3 linked regions of the Homo sapiens genome follow. The protein of the gene in region 1 purifies or fractionates together with the protein of each later gene. This does not show direct contact. Each region holds a gene or a part of one and is shown in the gene's direction. Other genes may lie near its edges.

Region 1 (7,022 bases):
CAGAAATGCTGGGATTACAGGCGTGAGCCACCATGCTGGGCTTCCTTCCTCCTTTCTTTGTTATCCCATCCCATTTTTTGTCCCCTTCCTTTTTATCCTGTCTCTGCTCTTTTCCTTCTTGCCCTTCTCCCCAGTCGAGCGGTTCTTGTGGCTACCACAGCTGTCGACCCCCTTAGGCCTAGAGGACTTTGGCCCAGAGGGGAGTTAGGCTGGGCCCCTGAGAGCCCACTGAGAACAGGGTTTGCTGGTGAGGCCCACAGCCCCTTCTCTAGGTCAGCACCCCCAGTGCCAGAATCTCCTGCCCCAGATGGTTCCTGAAGCACAGTCCTCCCTTCCACTCCCCTGCTCTCAAGCATCTATTCAGCTTTTTGTAACCAAGATGGTTCATATCTAGCTTTTTTGTTATTGTTCTCTTTTCTCTTTAAAGCTGGGGAAGCTCCAGGCTACCTACACAACCTGGCCCAGGCTGGTCACGGTGTCCCCCCTCCCTGCTCTGTGCCCTCTCCTTCCAGAAATCCACCATGGAGAGTAAGGATGAGGTCAGCGACACCGACAGTGGCATCATCCTGCAGTCTGGTGAGTGTTCAGGGAAATCCCCCTGCCCTAGTCCCTAGTCCCTGGTCCCTGGTCCCTGGCCCTGACTCCTGAGTCCTGAGCCCTCAGGCACTAGGGCTGGCTGGGCTGAGACTCCCAAGGGCTGAGAGGAAGGGGAGGGAGAGGCCTCTGCTGGGAGGAGGGGGAGGTTCTGGAAGGGCTGGAGCCTCAGGGACATGTGGAGTTTTCCTCCCTGGAGAAAACTGGCTTGGAGTTTTGGTTCTATCTGGAAGAGGGATCTGCAATGTTCAACTTTAGCCCCAGCTGAGAAGTTGAAAAATCTCAGGCAGGCACAGTGGCTCATGCCTGTAATCCCAGCACTTTGGGAGGCCAAGGTGGGCGGATCACAAGGTCAGGAGATCGAGACCATCCTGGCTACCACATAGTCCCAGCTATGTGGGAGGCTGAGGCAGAAGAATCGTTTGAACCTGGGAGGCGGAGGTTGCAGTGAGCCGAGATCGCGGCATTGCACTCCAGCCTGGGCGACAGGGCAAGACTCCGTCTCAAAAAAAATATATCATCTGGCCAATGTGAAGGTCTTGCCTCTCTGTTTGGCCAGACCTGTGGGCCTAGTCTGGCCTAGTCTTGACAGAGGACAAGAAAGAAGAGGCTTATGTGTGTGTGCAAGAGAGAGGGGTAGTGGGGAGAGGGAGAGAGAGAGACAGGAAGAAGAAGGAGAAGGAAAAGAGGAAGAAGAAGGGAGGAGGAGTGGGGGGAGGACTGCACCGGCAGAACTCCCTCCCCTGCACTCCCCCACCATAGGTCACCTGGTGGGACGACCCTCCCTTCTGAGTTGTAACATTTGTGCAGCCAAGAGACGTGGTGTTTTGTGGCTGTGACACAGGCCACAGCAGCCAGCCTGCAATTTGTGGGCAGGCATGAGATGTGTGTGTGTGTGTGCATGTGTGTGCATGTGCATTCCCCTAGGGGTGGTCAATAAGTAACGGAGGAGGCTTCCATCTTCAGCCTCCCTGAGCATGTGCCCCCCAACCCTTGCAGGCCCCGACAGCCCGGTCTCCCCAATGAAGGAGCTGACCCATGCAGTGCACAAGCAGCAGAGGGCCCTGGAAGCGAGGCTGGAGGCCTGCCTGGAGGAGCTGAGGAGACTCTGCCTTCGGGAAGCGGTGAGGCCCCAGCCAGCACACACAAGCATCGGGTTCATCTCAGGAGCTGTGGAGCCACGTGTGGGGATGCGGGAGCTGGGGAGAGGGAGCCCCATTCTTGAGGGAATTCTGGACATCAGGCTGGGGGCTGGGGCCCAGAGTCCCCATGATGCAGTGTTTGACCTTGTGCTGGATGGAGAAGAGTCAGACCCAGGCAGGGGCCCAGGCACAGAGAACAAAGTTCATCAGGGGCTGCAGAGGGACTGCACAGACATAAGTGCATATGAGTGCTGTAACCCGGGTCGGTGTAGCTCTGGAGGAAGTGATCAGAAAGAGGTCTGAAGGGAAAGGGGAGGAGTGCAGAGTGGGTCTGAAGACAGGAGAGACAGTGTGGAGGATGGGATGAGGTGGGGTGGAGGGTGGTCCCACCAGGGCTTCTATGGAAGGCAGGCACATGCAGTGCAGGGGCCAGTGAGCCAAGTCTGGGCAGGTGGAGAGGACCTGGCTGGTCTCTGCTTCCTCCCCAGGAGCTGACGGGCACCTTGCCAGCGGAGTATCCCCTCAAACCAGGGGAAAAGGCCCCCAAGGTTCGCCGCAGGATCGGAGCGGCTTACAAACTGGATGACTGGGCCTTGCACAGAGAGGTGAGGAACCTCAGGAAGCTGCCAGTACCCCTCGATCCCCAAAGCTGATCACTGAGACGCCACACCTCAGCTCAGTACCCTGGCAGGTTCCCTTCCACCCTTTCACACCCAGTGAGGGTGCTTGGCTGCCTGTTGGTGAGAGACACCATGAATATGTAGCCCAAATGGCTGTGGAGAAGGGGCGCCACTAAGGAACCGAGAGCTGGGAGCTCAAGGGAGGACACTGGGTTTGACCCCATTGGGCAGAAGATCAGTTAAGAGCACCAGCCACCAACCCAGCGGGCAATAGCCTGCTCAGACAGGTTACTCTGGCCCCTAGGGCTGTCCTCCTTTCTCAGGAGGAGGTGGGGGCAGTCAGGCCCTGGGTGCCCTTCCCCTGTGGCGTCAATGGCAGCAGTTTCCCATGGGCCAGCCTGCCCCACCCTTTGGGGTCAGGAGGGAAAGTGTCCCACTTGGGTTCCCACCCTGCCCGGTTCAGCAGGTGGGCTGGTGGGTGGGTGCCCATGCCAGCTTTTCAGGCTGACAAGTTTGCTTTTCGGCTCCTCCCACTCCTTCACCCTCTGCTCCACGTCCGTCCATTGGTGCTGCTGTCTGCCTCTCTTCTGTCCTCAGGGCTTAGGACTGGGACCTAGAGCACTGTGTCAGGGCTGCTGTCCACCCTCTGGGCCCCCAATCTCCCTGCCTCTCTCTAGCCTCACTCCTGCCCCCTCTCTCAGGACCCCCTAAGCAGCCTGGAGCGCCAGCTGGCCCTGCAGCTGCAGATCACAGAGGCAGCCCGTCGGCTGTGCCTGGAGGAGAACCTCAGCAGGCAGGCTCGGCGGCAGCGGAAGCACTCCATGCTGCAGGAGGAGAAGAAGCTGCAGGAGCTCCAGCGCTGCCTGGTCGAGCGGCGGCGCAATAGCGAGCCACCTCCGGCTGCTGCTCTCCCCCTGGGCCGAGGTGAGCCGGCTGCCCTGAGGGGGGCCATGCTCCTTAAATGAGCTTTTGAGGGATGGTGGGCGCACAGCCCCGTGCCACTGCCTTTGCATTTGGCTCCAGCTGGGTAAAGCTGATTCTTGGGTTCAGCTCCACCCCATCCTGATTCTCTCCAACTCCAGCAAGGCTTCCCCATCCTGTGAGGTCTTCTTCTCCGTCTCCTTAGAAAACACCCTACTCTCTCCTTCCGTATCCTCCTCAAAATACACTACCTTCAAGAGACTTCCTACACAGAGATATTTCTCAGCTGACCCTGAGCTGAATCCAAGGTGTATTCAACTGGGTAGCCCAGGCTGGCCCCGCTGCCCTCCAGGCCCACAGGGTGATGGCATCTCTGGGTCAGGGTAGTGTGAGGCTCCCGTGAGCCCAAGGCTCTGAGTTGATGTGTAGTCCCCTGGCCTGAGTTAGGCAGCAAAGGGTTTGACGATTGCTATGTGTTACTGATCACTGAATTGTTTCAGGGGCCCACAGCTACTTAGGAGATGTTCAGGTTGAAATCCAGCAGGACTGGTGCCACACCCCACAGCCCCTTAAGTATCTACAACCACCCTGGTCAAGGGTGGGATCCTTCCATGTCTGTTCTCTGCCCTCCTTGTGTCTGTAGTTCAATCCCTGAGCTCCTTGGCCCAGAGACTAGTGGCCGTGGGGGCACCTAGTGAGTTGTTGATGCCCAGGTGCTGCCACATCACATCAGTGTGTCCACCACAGGTTAGCTTCCAACAGGTGGTTCTGAGCCCTTAGGTGTGACTGTTTTCCTTTGTCCTGACCCAAGGCCAGCCTGTCAGGTCAGGACTTGCATCTCTCCATTCCAAACCCCACCGCAGCAGGCCCATGACTCAGCTCTGCCCCCCGTCTCTCACATGGGACCCAGACCTCCCTGGCTGCCTCAGAGGGAACCGGGAGGGAATGAGGCCGTGGCCCTGCAAAAAAAAATCCAGAATTGGATTCAGAGGTCTCGGCCTTCATTCACATTCTCAGGCTCCCATCCCTGCATATCGTGTTGGCTTTTTGCCAAGACTACTCCTCAGCCTGGGAGCAGTCATGGGGAAGCTGGAAAGCCCTTGCTAGTCCCTGTGCCCTGCAGCCTATGCCTCAGGCAGGGAGTTATCTCAGCACAGGTCTCAGAAGTCCCTGCTCCTATCCATGGCTTTTAATTTAGGGTAGAAAGTGCATGACCAGACACCACCCAGGTCACCTCCCGCAGCCAAGAGTAGGTGATAAAGGAGGAGGTGCCTCCATGTGACAGTTAACCCAGTAAACTCAGAAGACAGTGGGGCTGACCCAGGGAAAATGGCCAGACCTCTGTCCGGTTCCAGTGGTTCTGGCTTGGCCGCAGAACAACACTCCCAGTCTCTGAGGCTCTAATGGAAGACAAGTTCTACAACCTTACTCCACTCTCAACAGGGATCCCAGGACTTGACAGCAACCTTGAAAGGTAGCTGCTGAATTGGACATGGAAGCCCCTAAGGGCCAACTTGCTCTGTGCCTGCAGGGAGAGGTCAGGGTGGTGAGATATGCCCGTTGGTTGCAGCGCCTCCTGCTCCCCGGTCCAGCCTCACACTGCTCAGCAGCCTCCCCTGCCCACCGGGGCTGCCATTGCTGGGAGCTTCTGCCCATGATGGGTGGCAGGGGAGTGTCACCCTGATGCTGCCATTGTGACCCATAATGCTTCTTGTTGGGAGTCGGGAGCAGGCCAGGACTGGCCTGGGGCTCTGTGGAAGGCAGGAGGATGAGGTTCTGAAACCTTGGAGCCCTCAGTACAGGTGAAGACAGAGCTGTGGAGAGGAGACAACTGGTGTAGTTGCTGACTTTCCCACATCAGGAATCAAGATCCCACTGGCCAACTTCAGGCCCTGGGATCTAAAGTCCTGTTGTGAGAGCACAGAAGGGATCAGTTCTAGACAAGTAATTTCTGTTTTGTGGCTCCTCTGCCCAGCCGAGCCCTCCTAGAAAGGAGGAAGTAAAGCAGAATTATTAGTAGCTGAGGTGTTTTGAATTAAAAAGGGAAGGCCGGACACTGTGGCTCATGCCTGTAATCCCAATACTTTTGGAAGCCAAGGTGGGCGGATCATGAGGTTAGGAGTTCAAGACCAGCCTGGCCAACATAGTGAAACCCCATCTCTACTAAAAATACAAAAATTAGCCAGACATGGTGGTGCATGTCTGTAGTCCCAGCTACTCGGGAGGCTGAGCCAGGAGAATCCCTTGAACCTGGGAGGTGGAGCCCAGGATCAAGGGAGCCGAGATCGTGCCACTGCACTCCAGCCTGGCAACAGAGTGAGACTTTGTCTCAAAAACAAAAAACAAAACAAAACAAAAAAACAGGAGGCCAGGTGCAGTGGCTCACACCTGTAATCCCAGCACTTTGGGAGGCCGAGGCGGGTGGATCACTTGAGGTCGGGAGTTCAAGACCAGTCTGACCAACATGGAGAAACCCCATCTCTACTAAAAATACAAAATTAGCCAGGCATGGTGGCGCATGCCTGTAATCCCAGCTACTCGGGAGGCTAAGGCAGGATAATCACTTGAACCCAGGAGGCGGAGGTTGCGGTGAGCCGAGATTGCACCATTGCACTCCAGCCTGGTGACAAGAGCGAAACTCTGTCTCAAAAAAAAAAAAAAAAAAAAGGGAAAAAAGCAAACAACCCAAAAACCGAAATAAAAAACCACCCTGCCCCCTTGGGCTCCATACAAGGGTAATTTAGTTTGGGAAAGTAACTGCTAGGTGAGAGTCATCAGCCATACTTTGCAGTGGCAGGGAGCAGTCAGGTGTTGAGCTCATTTACTAGAGTGAACCGCATGAGGGCCACCCAGCACCCACCTGTGCAATGTAATAGGCACTCTGGATGCATCTGTTGATCAACAACACCAGCCATTAGCCACATCCTCATAACATTTTTTTTTTTTTTTTGAGACGGAGTCTTGCTCTCTCATCCAGGCTGGAGTGCAGTGGAGCCATCTCAGCTCACTGCAACCTCCACCTACCGGGTTTAAGCGATTCTCCTGCCTCAGCCTCCTGAGTAGCTGGGACTGCAGATGCGTGCTGCCACGCCCAGCTAATTTTTGTATTTTTAGTAGAGATGGGGTTTCACCAAATTGTCCAAGCTAGTCTCGAACTCCTGACCTCAAGGGATCCTCCCGCCTTGGCCTCCCAAGTGGTGGGATTACAGGCGTGAGCCACTGCGCCTGGCCGCTCATAGCATTTCTGAGATGGTGGAAGTGTTCTGTATCTGTGCTGTCCAATACAGTAGCCACTCGCTGCATGTGGCTATGGAGCATTTGAACTGTGCCTAGTGTGACTGAGGAACTGACTTTATTTAGTTTTAATGAAAATAGCCACATGCGGCTAGTGGCAACTGTGTTGGACAGCATAGCCTTGGGGGAAGCTCAGCATTTGTGAGTAAAATCTCCACCGTTACCCCTCTGTCTGGGGTGTCCTGCGATGCTGCTGCGGGGCAGGGGAACGCTGAGCTAGGGCAGGGTTGGGACAGTTGCTGAGATAGTGAGCAGCTCTCAGAAACCTGAATCTTTTTTTTTTTTTTTCCAATCTTTTTAGAGACAGGGTCTTGTTCTGTTGCTCAGGCTGGAGTGCAGTAGTGTGATCATACCTCACTGCAGCCTTGAACTCCTGGGCTCAAGTGATCTTCCTTCCTCAGCCTCTAGTAGCTGGGACTACAGTCATGTGCCACCACACCCAGCAAATTAA
Region 2 (7,396 bases), about 42 Mb from region 1:
TCATTTTGTATTTTTAGTAGAGACAGGGTTTCTCCATATTGCTCAGGCTGTTCTCGAACTCCAGACGTCAGGTGATCTGCCCGCCTCGGCCTCCCAAAGTGCTGGGATTACAGGCGTGAGCCACCGCGCCCAACCTCATTTTAAAAACAAGAAAGTAAATGCTGACTCAGTTTTCACATTAGAACTTCAAATTTTGATATACCATAATAGTACCAACATTAAAGAAATAAGGAAATTTGTTTTTGTTTTTGTTTTTGTTGTTTTTTGAGACAGAGTCTCGCTCTGTCGCCCAGGCTGGAGTGCAGTGGCGCGATCTCGGCTCACTGCAAGCTCCACCTCCTGGGTTCATGCCATTCTCCTGCCTCAGCCTCCTGAGTAGCTGGGACTACAGGCGCCCGCCACCACGCCCGGCTAGTTTTTTGTATTTTTTTTTTTAGTACAGACGGGGTTTCACCGTGTTAGCCAGGCTGGTCTCCCATCTCCTGACCTCGTGATCCGCCCGCCCCAGCCTCCCAAAGTGCTGGGATTACAGGCGTGAGCCACCACGCCCGGCCCCAGGAAAAGATCTTTTTAAAATGGAAGTACGATCACGGAAAATAGGGAAAGCATTTTGCATTTTTATGCGGCCACTTCCTGGCTGAATATCAATGAAGGGATATTAGTAGTGACTACATGTGCAGTTATTTACAAGCTAGAGGAAAAACCGGTGAGGAAAGACCAAGACTGTTTATTAGGCTTCCATTAATCATAAACTACGCAAGGCATTTGGGGAAGTAATGGTGGGTAGACAAAACCAAACAAACCAACAAAACCAAAACAAAATAAGACATAGAACTTTAAACTGCATTTTATCTTACTACATAGTAATACAATTCTTAAATTATTAGGCACACTCAAAATAAGGAATTTCCACATAACTCCAGCATTGTTTATTAAGGAACAGAATACTTTACTTTAAAGGGAATTATCAGCCGGGCGCGGTGGCTCACGCCTATAACCCCAGACTTTGGGAGGCTGAAGTGGGCGGATCACTTAAGGTCAGGAGTTCTAGAGCAGCCTGACCAACATGGCGAAACCCAGTCTCTACTAAAAATACAAAAATTAGCCGGGCATGGTGGCGCGTGCCTGTAATCCCAGCTACTTGGGAGGCTGAGGCTGGAGAGTTGCTTGAATCCAGGAGGCAGAGGCTGCAGTGAGCCGAGATGGCACCACTGCATTTCAGCCTGGATGACAGAGTGAGACTCCATCTCTAAATAAATAAATTATACTACTCAAAAATAGCAATTTATATTTGTGAAGAACTTCTGACTGTACTTAAGTTCAGAGTTAATTCTGTTTTGTTTCCTTCCAGAAGCTGTTATATAAGCTAACATACAAAAATAAAAGTGCTACTAAATAAATGATATGTCCTGAAAAACCCATAAACATTTCAGGTTACATTTCCTGATTCACTGTTAAAATTATGAATACGTTTTTTTTTAAGTTGTTTAACTTTTTCTATCCTTCGTATTTGCTCTTGGTGAAATGTTTCCACTACCTTATATTGTTATCACACTAAATTTAAATTTTATTTCAAACTAATTTTAAAATGTATTATCCTTAAATGAAAACCCTTCATTCTGTAATTATTGAAAGCAGTACCACTAGTATTAAACATATTACTATAACATTAATTTAAAATGAACCCCTTTACTGCGTCAAAATGCCTAATGTTAAACAGCCTCCGACAATTATATAAAGACTTAAAATAAGGTCAAAGGAAGAGAAGCATCAGGAAAAACTTTCAATGAAAACAAAAAATTTTTGCCAATCTTAAAAATTACAATTACTCATATCATTGTGCACAGTATTTTTCTTGCTTCCAAATGAAAAGTTAGAAGTGCTTATTTTGTATCTAACAGCTCTTGAAACATCAGTAGGTTGAGGAAGGTGTTCATTAAAACCGATTTTTTTACTCCTGCAGTTTGAATACTGAGAATGTCGACAGTTTGTTAACACAATTGACAGATGTAACAATACATAGTAACCCTTATAAAATCTAGAGTCATGAGAAGATAAACTTTCTAATATTGAAAAACCTTCACTTTGCTTTAAGTAACAAGTATAAATAACAATTAACATTTAATGAGTGCTTGTCTAGTAAGCACTGATCTTTACCCTTACTTTCTATCATAGTAATCTATAATTATTTTTTTTTTTTGTCTTTCTCCCCAACTAATCCAGAAGCTCCATGGGGATAGGAACTTTGTCTTGTTCCTTACTGCATGCCTAGCACCTAGTATGCTTAACACATAGTAGGAGGCACTGACACATAGTAGGCATATTATGCAGAACAACACATGCTTCATAACTTAGTATTCTCAATGTCGCAAACAGTCATGACCTAGAGGCTTATGAAAATGCAACAGAATAGAAAGCAGAGTTTATTACATTTAGTAGAATAAAAATTCTTCAGTGAAACTTATAGTTTATATGTACACATATGTCCCATATAAAATTTATTTCTTACTATAGGTAAACATTTTAAGAAGTCTTAAAATCACTGCTTTATGGGGATTATTTCATTTGCTCCCCACAATAACCCTATGGACAATTCCATAACTTCCATTATAACAGAATCGAAATTTCTAGATGTTATATATGCTGTCCAAGTTGACAGCGCCATCTAAAAGTACAGACATTAAGTCCAACAGAGCTTAAAGGAAAATAAATACAGACATTATTTGTACAGATACTTGCTCATATGGTAATGTGGTAAGAAAATCTAAATTAATAAGGTTTTGATAATAGTAATTATGGCTTGATTAGTAAATACAAACATAGGCTTTGAAGGCAAGCCTGATAATACCTGGCTCTGCAACTAACCAGCTGTGTGGGCTCTGGCCTGTAATTCAACCTCTCTGAGCTTCGCTTTCCCCATGTGTAAAATATTCACACGATTGGTGTAAGCTGCAGATGATTTACTGTATGTAAATAGCCTAAATCAATTAAAAGGGGGCTCTTGTGATTAAAATAATTATTAGTGTTTCCCCCCACTGATCCCATAAATCACATTCAATCCACTGTGCCATAATTTAAATGTGTAAAAACTGTGAATCAGACTTTTATTGGATTAAATAGCAACGTATGGGAACTGAACAAAAATGGCATAGAGCTATCCAAGAGTTTCTGCTGTCGCCGGTTGAGAAAGATGCCAAGTTAAGATCAAGGAGTTGATTGAGGTAACTACGGGAATCTGAGGAAACATCGTTGCTTAACTGTAAAAACTAAATCAAACTATTTCATCCTCCTCAAGACCACAGCAACATCCATCTTGCTCCTCTGTAGCGTGGACGGGGCAGAACCCAGGTGTTAGGAAACGCACCTGGTCTGCTCCCGCCCACTAGGCCCTGGGCACCTCGGGGCTAGGGACAGAGGTTTGGAGCAACTCACCCCGGAGACTCCGTTGATACTGCCCCAGAATCTCCTCCAGGGTAGAGTTCTCCGGGGACTTCGCCATGCACGCACTCTAGGCCCAGAGCTGGGAGTTACGTGGGGAAATGTCCAGCTTTCTCCCTTCCGAGAACAACAGGCCTGTGGCCGGGGAGCGCCCGCCTGCTTCCTGCCGCGGCTGTCACAGGGGAGCCTAGAATCCCGCACAGAGCTCTTGGGGGCTCTTCCCACCCACTGGCCCTCGCTTTGCACGTCGGGAGTTGTAGTCCTCACGTTCAGAACCTGCAAGCTCGACAATCCTCAGGGCCTTCCAGTTACACTACAATTCCCAGAAACCACTGCGCTCCAGGCGCTAGCTTGGACGGTTTGGCTGCCAGAGCCTGCTGCCAAGAGACAGGCTTGCAGGCCCCGCCCTTTTCCTCCAGCCCAGCCTGGTTTAGTCCCGCCTCCATCCCACTCTTCAGCTGCCTGGACCACCCAAATGACAGAAAGGGCTCACTGAAGGCCTTGACGCTTCGAAATTTGCTAATATGCAGCAGTTGATCCCCAGGCTACTCAAGGACGCAGATAGTAAACTCTGAACCCTGCTTCAGTTGCGAGATTTTTTAAAACGGTCGAATAAATCTTCAAGAAATAGAAGCTCTAAATCTTCCAAACAGCCTAGATTGTAAAGGCGGCCGACACTACAACTCCTAGCATGCCCAGCAACCGGACCTTCACTTGGAGTTGGCGCTCTGCCCGCTGGGAACTGTAGTCCTTGTTGGTTGCGGTCCCACCTAACGCCGAGGTCCTCTTCATTGTTCAAGCTGGTCTTTCGGGGCACGCCTGCGCAGTGGGCAAGCTGGAAAAGCGTGTGGGTGAGACCCTCGCACAACCCCTTTTCATTGTCTGTGTGTGGCGCCTGCGCAGTAAGGGATCGTTGGAACTGGGCAGGAGGGGATAGGGTCCGGCTCCTCGCCCTTTCCCGAGGCGCCTGCGCACTAGGCAGTCGGTCTTTGCCGTTACCGCTATGTGTGGGGCGTGTGTGGAATAACGTTATTGCCCAGCGGAGCTGAGGGCCCCGGAGCTCGACCGCAGCGGCAGCGACGACAACAGCGGCGACGACGACGACGACGAGGTGGGGGGAGGACGGCGTGCGAGAGACTCACGGGACGCGACGCGCCCCGCCTCCCCCGTCCGGTCCCTCTCTCCACGGTAAGGGGTAAGTGATGCGATCGGCTGCTCGGTGTAGGCGCCGCAGCCGCAGCCACCGCCGCGGCTGCTTTCCACATCCTGCTCCTCGGGTTTGCGGCGAGGACTCGGGCGCCGCCCGCCGCGGGGCGGGGGTGCGGGGCTGGACCGCGAAGGGGGCGCTTCCCGGGTGCTCCGCGCGGCGCCGCCACCCCCACCCTCTGCCCGCCTGGGACCCGGGGCTTGACGGGACCACCCTTCCCATCCCCCACCCGCCGCCCCCCGGAGCTCCAGTCCTGCGGCCCCCCGGCTTTCCCGAGCCCCTTGCTGCCGCCTCCGCATCCCCTAAGTGCATTGAATCATTTTCAGCTTTCGACTGGCTTTGTGCAGCCCTCCCCCCTCCGCCGTAGCAGTTTGCGAGGGGTGCGGGCGGAGCATTGGAGGGAATGGCTGCGCTGCCGCTGGGGAAGGGATTTTTCCCCCATTGGAGCAGCTCCCCGGGCCAATCCCTTTTGTGTGATTGGTTTTGGGGTGTGAGGCGGTTGGCGAGGTCAGGCGAGCAACCTTTTGGACGCGTTGGGAGGGCGTGGAAGACGCGGTGTCATGCACCCTGCCTGGCGACTGCACCCCGTGGAGGCTCTGGCTCTGTAGTAAACCCGGGGGAGGAGAGAGTGGCTTCCTGTCGGCTTCATTGTCCTAGGATTCAGATGTAGGGTTTTGGTACGTTTCGCTTCCATTTTATGCAAGCGATGAAAAAATAACATTTGCAGCTGCCTAACACAGGGCGGGAAGACGTGGGATTTGTATACTAAGTCACAGAATCTCTGTTCGGTGGTGTTTCGTAGAGTTTTATTTATTTATTTATTTATTTATTTATTTATTTTGAGGAATGTAAGGAAGACAGGGACTATGCCTGCTGGAGTCCAAGCACTGCCAAGGTGATCAATATAAAATTACTAGGTGACGTTGGAGCCTGGGCTAGAGAGGGCCTGACAACGAAGCTGTTGTGTCAGGGAAATGAACAAGCAGAATTGTTTTTTCATTGGGCAGGTAATGCATTTATGTTCCTGAGGGAATGGATACATCTTTCCGTTTATTTTTTAAGCAAGTAAAACAAACAAAACAACTGGCCCAGTACATTTCTGTTACCGAAGTTGTTAACTCATTTTTATTCTCTTAATGAAAATTCAGCCATTTGGGAGGAATTTGGCGAAGCAGATGATACATTTGATTGAAAATGCATATTTTAAAATGATTTAATCCTTAAGCTTACAATGTATGCAGCCGTTTGCTGGCGTTGCTTCTTAAAACACACCAGAAGAGAGAATAAAGCAGGATGGGGAGGAGCAGGTGGAGGAATAATGGGAGAGGAGAGAGTGACATTATGACTATAGTATCTGGATCTTCACTGGTATAACCCTAACTGGGTATGCTTCAGAGACTTAGGAATTCAGCTCTGGAAACAGTACACTGATGAATAGCAACTTATGTATTTTTCTGTTATTATTTTTTAAAAAGTAAAACTAGGGCTGCCTTTAGCTCTTCCTAACTTTGTAGATAACACGGAAGAGCCCAAGTGCACTTGACAGAGGAAGACACTAAAACTCAGAAAGTTAACTGACTTGTCTGCCCAAGCCAGACAGTTAATCGAAGGCAGAGCCAAACGAAACTCAAGGTCCATTCTGCAGAGTGATCTTTCCTGTGTCCCCCTAGCCCTTTTACCTTGTGAAAATGTATGGAAAGCTTCTCTATGTGCTCCCTGAGTAGGCTGTGACTATCACTGAACTTGATTCTCACCGTGATTAATCTAGTTCTTGCCTTTGTGATGTAAAAGTAGTAATCCTCCTAAAATGGACCTTTACTTTCATAAAGTAACTTACTACATGAGGAAAGATGTCCTAACATGTGCTTTTCATAAAAACGAAGTGTTGCAGTGTTTTCCCTACTACCTAATGGTAGCTACTTAACGGTAGGTTTTAATATTATTTCTTGAAAATCAATAGTATTTTATAATAGTATGATGATCAACTCTATAGGCTGTGTTAAAAATAAAATTTCCGCATAACAAGAACCTATGATGTTTATTTTGCCACAGTTAATGAGTTGTAATCATTAATGAGTTATTAGTGATTACTTTTAACTTAAACTAGAATTTACATTTTAAGATATATTAACTTTATGTTTTTTATTGGGTTGATTTTGCCATAAAGTGCTTTTTTCTTCCCTTATAATTTTAATCGTTTAATTTTACGTTGCATTTTAATAGACTTCTTTAAAGGATTTATTATTTATCTTAAATTTCAACTTTAAAAATCTGTAACTAAATTTCAGTATGTGGGATTATATTCAATCATGCTTTAAATGTATTTTACTGGTAAATTTCATTGTGTTCTGAGATTATTTTGTATGGAAATAATCTGCCTGTTCCCTATTTTAACATTAGAATAGTGAAATTTATACTGTAAACCTTAGCATACATTCTGCATATTAATGCTGTTATGGTACTTTTTAAAATTCTGTGCTTCGTGATTTATTTGATTTGTTCCAAGTATCAGTTTCTTGTTCCTTTTTATCTACTGAAAAAAAGAACTAGTTTTATTATTGTATCTGATTGCAATTAGATAATGCTCATCTAGTACTAAATATTGTATATGCTTAAGCTTTTTTGTCAAAATGTTTTTTATTCCACAAAATTGTATTCCTGAAAAATATTTTTTCTATACTAATTAATAGGTAAAGACTTTTCTTTCTTATCTGTCCCAAACACTGGGATGTTAAGCAGTGTACTCTTCAA
Region 3 (7,663 bases), about 41 Mb from region 1:
TCCTGCAAATGAAGGAGGAGGATGTCCTTAAGTTCCTTGCAGCAGGAACCCACTTAGGTGGCACCAATCTTGACTTACAGATGGAACAGTATATCTATAAAAGGAAAAGTGATGGCATCTACATCATAAATCTGAAGGGAACCTGGGAGAAGCTTCTGCTGGCAGCTCGTGCTATTGTTGCCATTGAAAACCCTGCTGATGTCAGTGTTATATCCTCCAGGAATACTGGCCAGAGGGCTGTGCTGAAGTTTGCTGCTGCCACTGGAGCCACTCCAATTGCTGGCCACTTCACTCCTGGAACCTTCACTAACCAGATCCAGGCAGCCTTCTGGGAGCCATGGCTTCTTATGGTTACTGACCCCAGGGGCTGACCATCAGCCTCTCACAGAGGCATCTTATGTTAATCTACCTACCATCGCTCTGTGTAACACAGATTCTCCTCTGCGCTATGTGGACATTGCCATCCCGTGCAACAACAAGGGAGCTCACTGAGTGGGTTTGATGTGGTGGATGCTGGCTCGGGAAGTACTGTGCATGCGTGGCACCATTTCCCGTGAACACCCATGGGAGGTCATGCCTGATCTCTGCTTCTACAGAGATCCTGAAGAGATTGAAAAAGAAGAGCAGGCTGCTGCTGAAAAGGCAGTGACCAAGGAGGAATTTCAGGGTGAATGGTCTGCTCCAGCTCCTGAGTTCACTGCTACTCAGCCTGAGGTTGCAGACTGGTTTGAAGGTATACAGGTGCCCTCTGTGCCTATTCAGCAGTTCCTACTGAACAATGGAGCACTCAGCCTGCCACGGAATACTGGTCTGCAGCTCCCACTGCTCAGGCCACTGAATGGGTAGGAGCAACCACTGAATGGTCTTAAGCTGTTCTTGCATGGGCTCTTAAGCAACATGGAAAAATGGTTGATGGAAAATAAACATCAGTTTCTAAAAAATAAAAAAATAAAAAATAAAAATAAAAGACTTGGAAGTCATCATTACGTGGATGGTAGTTTTTCTTTTTTTTGGAGACAGGGTCTCACTCTGTCATCCAGGCTGGAGTGCAGTGGTGTGACCTCAGTTCACTGCAACCTCTGCCTCCCAGGCTCAAGAGATCTTCCTACCTCAGCCTCCTGAGTAGCTGGTGCACACCACCACTCCCTGCTAATTTTTGTATTTTTTGTAGAGATGAGGTTTCGCCATGTTGCCCAGGCTGGTCCTGAGCTCAAACAATCTGCCCACCTTGGCCTTCCAAAGTGCTGGAATTACAGACGTGACCCACTGCGCCCGGCCCTGGACAGTAGTTTAAATGTGAGAATGGATACAATCACTGAAAGAACATGTAGAATGAAGGGGAAGAGAAGCTAATTAAATAAATGATTAGAGAGATAAAAACAAAACCGTGGAATATAGTGTTACGGAAACCAGTGGGATTGAGTATCTGTCACAAGATGGATACACAAGGGATAATAATCATCACAACCTCAAATTCAATAGGAAAGCCCAAATAAGAAAGGGAGAATTCAGTGGTAATAGCTATTGATTTGGTGGTAATAACCATGGTGTCCACAAAACAGTGGGTACAAAAAGCAGATCATAGAAAGGGAGGCCTCTATCCCTATAGCTTCCACTAAGATGACTTGCCATGGTCTAATCCTCCATTTTCCAAGTCCGATGGTCAATTTCCAGTTATCTTAACCTGTTTTATGACAGGAATGATGGAGATTATAGCCCCTTCTTGAAGCTTTTTTTTTTTGGTTTGTTTTATAAGACCCCTCACTTTTGAGTTTTATTCTTCCTATTTCCTGGCTACTCTTTTTAAATAAATTTTGCTGTATGTTCCTCCTCTCTGACCTTTATTAGTTGGAATGCCTCAGGATTAGAGGTCTCAGTCTTTAAACTGCTTCTCTTTGCTTCCACATTGATTTCTCTCCACCCCATGGCTATGTATGCCATTTATAACTTAATTAATCCTTAATTTATACCTCTCATTGTCCCTTGTATGAGCCCCAGGTTCATATTTCCAATTGTTTACTCAGTAGCTCCATTCGGAAATCTAATAGGGATCTCCAGTTTAATATGTTTGAAGTAAAATTGGACATTCCCCCCCGCCAAAAAAAACCTTGCTCCTGTCTCCTCACATGCGCTCTCAGTAAACGACATCACTATTTATCCAGTTACTCAAATCAAACTGATTTTTGTACTTTGACTTTTGTACTTTTTTACTGATTTTTTATTCTTGTCTTTATCTTGTACCCCACATTCAATCTATTAACACATCACCTCTCCACCACTTTCAGAGTACATCCTGAATCCTACCAATTTCATTGCAACACTAGTTTTGCAGGTCTTCTGCAATAGCTTCCTAACTGGTCTTTTAGCTTCTATTTGGCTTCCCTATAGGGAATTCTCAAAGAATAACCAGAGTGAACATCTTCAATTATAAATCAGATCATGCCACTCTTCTACTCAAAACCCTCCATGGCTTCCTAGCATTCTTAGGATAAAATTCAAAGTCCTTTCTTTGGTCCATAAGTCCGTAAGTGATCTGGCTCCCATCTTGTTTCTCCAAACTAAGTTCCTATCTATTCTTTTGCCACAGTGGCTTCCTTGCCAAGCACACTCAAGCTGCAGGGTCTTTACCTTGTTGTTTCTTCTGCTTGAAATATTCTTTCCCAAGTATGTATAGCTTATTGTCTCACTTCAAACCTTTATTTAGATGTCACCTCAGCAGAGGGGCCTTCTCTGAATCCCCTATGTAAAAGAGCACACCCATCCAGGTAACCCATTTTTATTCTGCTTTATTTTCCTTTACAGTACTCTTTATAACTTTATTATCTGTGTGTCTCTCCCCTCCTCCTATGCTCCCAACCCTTGCACTAATAAGTTCCATGAATGCAAGAATCTTGGTTCTATTCACTGTTGCAGCCCCAGCACATAGAACAGGGCCTTCCAGAGCAGGAATTCAATAGTTGTTGACTGAATGAATGAAAGAATGAATAGGACGGTGGGGCATTAAATAGCTACTTTGTGCTGTAGCCCTCTTCTAGGTGTTGAGATTACAAAGATGATAAAAACACAGTCCTTGCCCTCAAGAATTTATATTCTAGTAGTATAGCTGGATCACAAACATAATTTTAGATTAAATGTTATAGGTAAAAAATGTTATTAAAAAAACAGTGCAGAGTAAGGGGATAGAGGAGGATGACATGAGGTTCCATTTTAGTTACAATAGTCAAGAGCTGCCTGTGTTAGGAAGTAGGATTTCAATAGACACCTCAAGTCTAGTAAATATCTAGTAGATGGACATTCCAAGAAAAGGAAAAAAACCCTAGGGCTGGGACATGCTTTGACTGGAGTGACAGTAAGGCTAGTGAGGCTAGAGCAGAGCTAGGCAGTGTGGGAGGAGATGAATCAGATAAATAGGCAGGTGCTAGATCAGATCATGTAGGGTCCTCCTTAGAGGCAATTCATTTTTTGATGGCCTCTAAGGCTATCATACTTTTGACTTTTATTATGTGATGGGAATTGGAGGTTTTGAGCAGGGTGGGGACTGGGGAAATAATACGACATTACTTTTTTTTTGAGACGGAGTCTCATTCCATTGCCCAGCCTGGAGTGCAGTGGTGCGATCTCAGCTCACTGCAACCTCCGCCTCCGGGTTCAAGCAATTCTCCTGCCTCAGCCTCCCAAGTAGCTGGGATTGCAGGCGCGCTCCACCATGCCGGGTAATTTTTTTTTTTTTTTGTATTTTTCGTAGAGACGGGTTTCACCATGTTGGCCTGGTTTCAAACGAGTTTCGAACTCCTGACCTCAAGTGATCCGCCCACATCCGCCTCCCAAAGTGCTAGGATTACAGGCATGAGCCACCGCGCCCGGCCAGACCTTACATTTTTAAAAAGCACTCTGGCTGCCTTATGTTTAACTGTAATGGCAATAATGGAAGTAGACAAACGAGGTAAGTTTCTATTGCGGTAGTCTTAAGTAATATGTAATGACTTGGAATAGGAGAGTAGCGGTAGGGGAGGTGAGAAAGGGTCAGATTTTTGCACCCTGGGCTTCTGGTAAGAAAAAAAAAAAAAATACCCCAGCCTGGCAGCTGGGAGTAATCCTCTGCAGGGTTACTGTAGGTGTCATAACGAAACAGAGTACAAAAGTCACCCCACATCACCCGGCCCACTCTTGGGAACCTTTACCCACACCACCTCTCTTCAGAAAAGAGCTTCTGGAATAGCTACACCTCAAGCTACTGAGCCCCTTCTTTAAAAATACGTAAATGGGGACTCTCAGGGGAAAATGGGCCTCGATAGTATAGAAACCACTTAAGGAAACAAAGCCCTGAAAGGAAACGGGGATTTTCAGAAGAAATCCTTGTGGCAATCATTGCTCGTTCCAGTGTTCAAAAACGGCAAAACTGGCCATCATCCAGGAAGTGGCCTGCCAATCCGCTGGAAATTTAGTTTATTTCTATCACAACTCTGGGTAGCCCCTAACTCGCATTTGTTTAGAGTATCACAAGATAAGCAAGCCCGAAGAAACTACAAAAACAACTTTGCCTCTTCGGTAATGCGCAGGCGCCTCTCGCTCTGTTTTCCGTTGGCCTTAAGCCCCGCCCCTTGTGCGTCCTTCGAGGAGGGTTGCGAGCCGTGAGCTCGCGCGACCACTCTTCCCTCAGTCTTCTCGAGCACATCGTCGCAAACGGGGCCGGAAAGCGTGGCAGCGCAGGCGCAAGCGCAGAGAGCGGAGGCGGTGGTGGTGGCGGCCGCTGGCCAGTGTAAGATGGCGGCGGCGTTGGTGGTGGCAGTGGACGGGGCGGCTGGGCCTGGAACAGTCGGAGCAGCCGCTAGCAGAAGGATGACCCAAGACGGGAAGCGGGCTGCTGAGCCTCGCCGATTCCCGTGCTTGTAACTGCCCCAGCCGGACACCCCCCCTCCCTTGACCTACCCGGTCTGTGTCTCGTTCCGGCTCGGCCTGCGCCCCCCCTCGCTTCCCAGCCGGTTTCCCCTAAGGATGGGCCTGACCCGTATCCCAAGCTCTTAGCGCTCAGGTCTTTTCCTTCCGCCGACCCGAAGTCATCGCTGGGAGTACTGGTTGCCCTTTCCTCAGGTCAGCCCTGGTGTTGCCCCCAAGAGCCAGCCGCACAGTTCACAGGGACGCCTTGCTTCGTTGGGTGACCCATGTGTGCGCTCCTATTTCTCCCCTTAGATTGAGGGACACGGCTCGCCCTGCGTCTCCCCGTCACCTCAGGGCCACCGCGCAATGTGTCCCCCTCCCCCATCCCAAGTTCCCAGGCCCAGCACCTTGTACGGAAGGCGGAGGTCCAAGAATTCCGGAGTCGGTTGTTGTCTTGTGGTCTTGTACCCTTTGTAATATAATTATCTTAGTTTACCTCCTCTAACTCCCAAATCTTTTAGGATATCTTAGAACGGTCCCATTTGGTCCCTGTTAGTTGGAAAGCATCTGGTGGCTTGAATTTCTGACTCATGATTGTTACTGGAGTCTCTGTAAACAAACCGGCACTAGCGCTATCACATTCTCTCCGGGATTTCCCCCCCTGCTCTGTGGCTTCTTGTTGAGAGGTTGTTTGGTTATGGTTTAGCGTTGAAAAGATTCAGGTTATCCTTTTAAATGACTTTACGTTTTAGTGGAGCTGGGAGATTACTTGCCTGGCTTCTAATCTTCATGTTGGTTCATTTTATTTCCATATGTGTGTGGGTTATTTGTTCAGTAATTAGAATTAGATAAAGTATTCTGCTTTTAAGTAGTTTTGAGAAGGCCTAAAAATACTAAAGTGTATTCATAAATATTTTTATTATGTTCAGTAGAAGACACACCTTTGCCATGTAAATTTTAACTTTTCTCAGTCCTTCAGTGAATCTACAGACCTATTTTCTCAGGAGCTCAGCCTGGCCTTACTTCAGTGATAAAAGGAGGAAAGGTGAGTGGGAGTTGGAGGCATTAAAATTCTTGAGTTCAAGACAGACTGCGCTGATGCTCAACTGCTGACCACTAAAGTCATAAAATTCCTACCAGTTTCCCAAAGAGCTTGAGTGTTGTTCTTGGCTTTGTTCCAGCTCTGGTTGAATTACTTTTACAAGTTTAATTGTCTGTGGGCTTCTTGTCTTTCTGTCCTAAACTATTGCTGTGTATCTCCAAATGACTTAAGCCTAGAAGTGAATGTGTGCCCCCTGCCCCATGTCTTCTTTTCTTCTTTATTCATTTTCCTTGTATTTTGTCTTTGTGTCGATCATATTTTTTACGTTGTTAAAAACTGGAACTTAGTTTGCCTGAGTTCTGTTCATCCTGTTGTCAAATCAGGTCTCTTCCCCTCTCACAGCTTCGGGTTGTCATCCCTTGGTATTTAGAGGAGAATATTTAGCTGCTTGTGACTAAAAGCTGGGGAGTGATGAGTGATGCTGCCTTTAGTTGGTGTCTGAGTCCAGTCTATTTCAGAATTCCGACTTTTTAGGATATAGTGGGAAATTTTTTGTAAAAAAAAAAAAAAAATAGTGGCTGCTCTTTCTTTTGTAGCTGGTCTGAAGAATTCTTGGTTAGCAGAAGAAACATCCTGGGCATTCAGCAGCATGGGTTGGTGCCAAAAAGGGAGTCAGAACATACTTATAAATGCAGTTTTCGTGAGGCTTTCAGGTTTCTGGTAGCAGAGACTAGAGGCTCATGGCATGTGACAGAAAAGCTAAGTGACTGGAAGGTAGGCCTGGCCAATTCCTAATATCTTTATGATTTGTAGTAGGAAAATATTGAGTGACACTGGTGAGTTTTATTCCATCTGATGACTGAATTAGAAAATGCTCATCATGGACTGGAATAAAATTATTAGTGATGGTGTATATGTGTATCAGTAAGATATAAAGAGAAAAGTACAGTCTTTAGAGATTGGACAGACTTTTAATTTAATTTTAAGGTTTAAATACTAGACTAATATTTCTTAGCCATGTGACCTTGAGCAAGTTACTTAAACTTCTCTGACTCTTAATTTCCACAACTCTAAAAGTGTGATAATACCACTTACCTCCCAGGGTCATTGTTAGTATTATAGGGAATCTATTTAAAGCTCTTAGTAATCTAAGAACACGTGGTACACACTCAAAAAATGTTGTTTTTTGGTTTTTTTTTTTTGCACATCATTGATACAGCTTTGAATAAGTTATACGTTAATTTATGCTTCTTTTACATTTTGCCTTAGAACACATTTTTCTGGTTAATTTTCCCAACTGATTTTTAATTGGTCAGCTTAGACGTGTCCTTTGTAAGTGCCCACCTAGAGTTGTCTTCTGAACATGAAACCCTTGGTGGGGGTTCATAACCAGAGGACAGAGAATATTAGATATTGGTGTATGTATATTTCAAAATGTATTCTTAAACATCAGTAAATTTTTTTGTTCATTGGTTCCTTCATCTTGGACTCTCTGTTAGCACACCTGATCAGAGTTGGCCGTGTTGTAATTCTTTCCCTCTCTGCTGCAATGTTGTTTACTTCTACTGCAACTATTCTTTATACTTTCCTTTTTTGCCATGAAGGGAATACATTTTTTCCTTCTTGTTGGGCTATACAGTGATCCTCATCAACAAATTATCAAAGAACTGTATGAGGAAAAGGTCTCTTTTTTTAAAAGTGAATCAGGGCTGGGGAGTTAGGAATGAAGAGGTTTTTTTTGTT

Evidence for each region. The genes of interacting proteins can lie anywhere in the genome.
Region 2: the proteins of INAVA (region 1) and CEP170 purify together in Homo sapiens (co-immunoprecipitation; 4 studies listed by BioGRID and IntAct, with this or other methods). This does not show direct contact.
Region 3: the proteins of INAVA (region 1) and DCAF8 purify together in Homo sapiens (affinity purification with mass spectrometry; 2 studies listed by BioGRID and IntAct, with this or other methods). This does not show direct contact.

What each region holds. Positions count from the first base shown.
Region 1 is NC_000001.11:200,897,880-200,904,901, forward strand, and holds part of INAVA (innate immunity activator protein), read left to right. Parts: intron 1-427; coding exon of another isoform or gene 428-521; coding exon 522-576; intron 577-1,593; coding exon 1,594-1,718; intron 1,719-2,224; coding exon 2,225-2,341; intron 2,342-3,057; coding exon 3,058-3,280; intron 3,281-7,022. UniProt on the Homo sapiens protein: Expressed in peripheral macrophages and intestinal myeloid-derived cells, is required for optimal PRR (pattern recognition receptor)-induced signaling, cytokine secretion, and bacterial clearance.
Region 2 is NC_000001.11:243,252,277-243,259,672, reverse strand, and holds the start of CEP170 (centrosomal protein of 170 kDa), read left to right. Parts: upstream 1-4,391; 5' UTR 4,392-4,633; exon of another isoform or gene 4,634-6,571; intron 6,572-7,396. Other genes in the region: SDCCAG8 (serologically defined colon cancer antigen 8), read right to left, coding at 3,433-3,499.
Region 3 is NC_000001.11:160,259,545-160,267,207, reverse strand, and holds the start of DCAF8 (DDB1- and CUL4-associated factor 8), read left to right. Parts: upstream 1-4,658; 5' UTR 4,659-4,759; exon of another isoform or gene 4,760-5,091; intron 5,092-5,285; exon of another isoform or gene 5,286-5,459; intron 5,460-5,849; 5' UTR 5,850-5,923; intron 5,924-7,663. UniProt on the Homo sapiens protein: May function as a substrate receptor for CUL4-DDB1 E3 ubiquitin-protein ligase complex.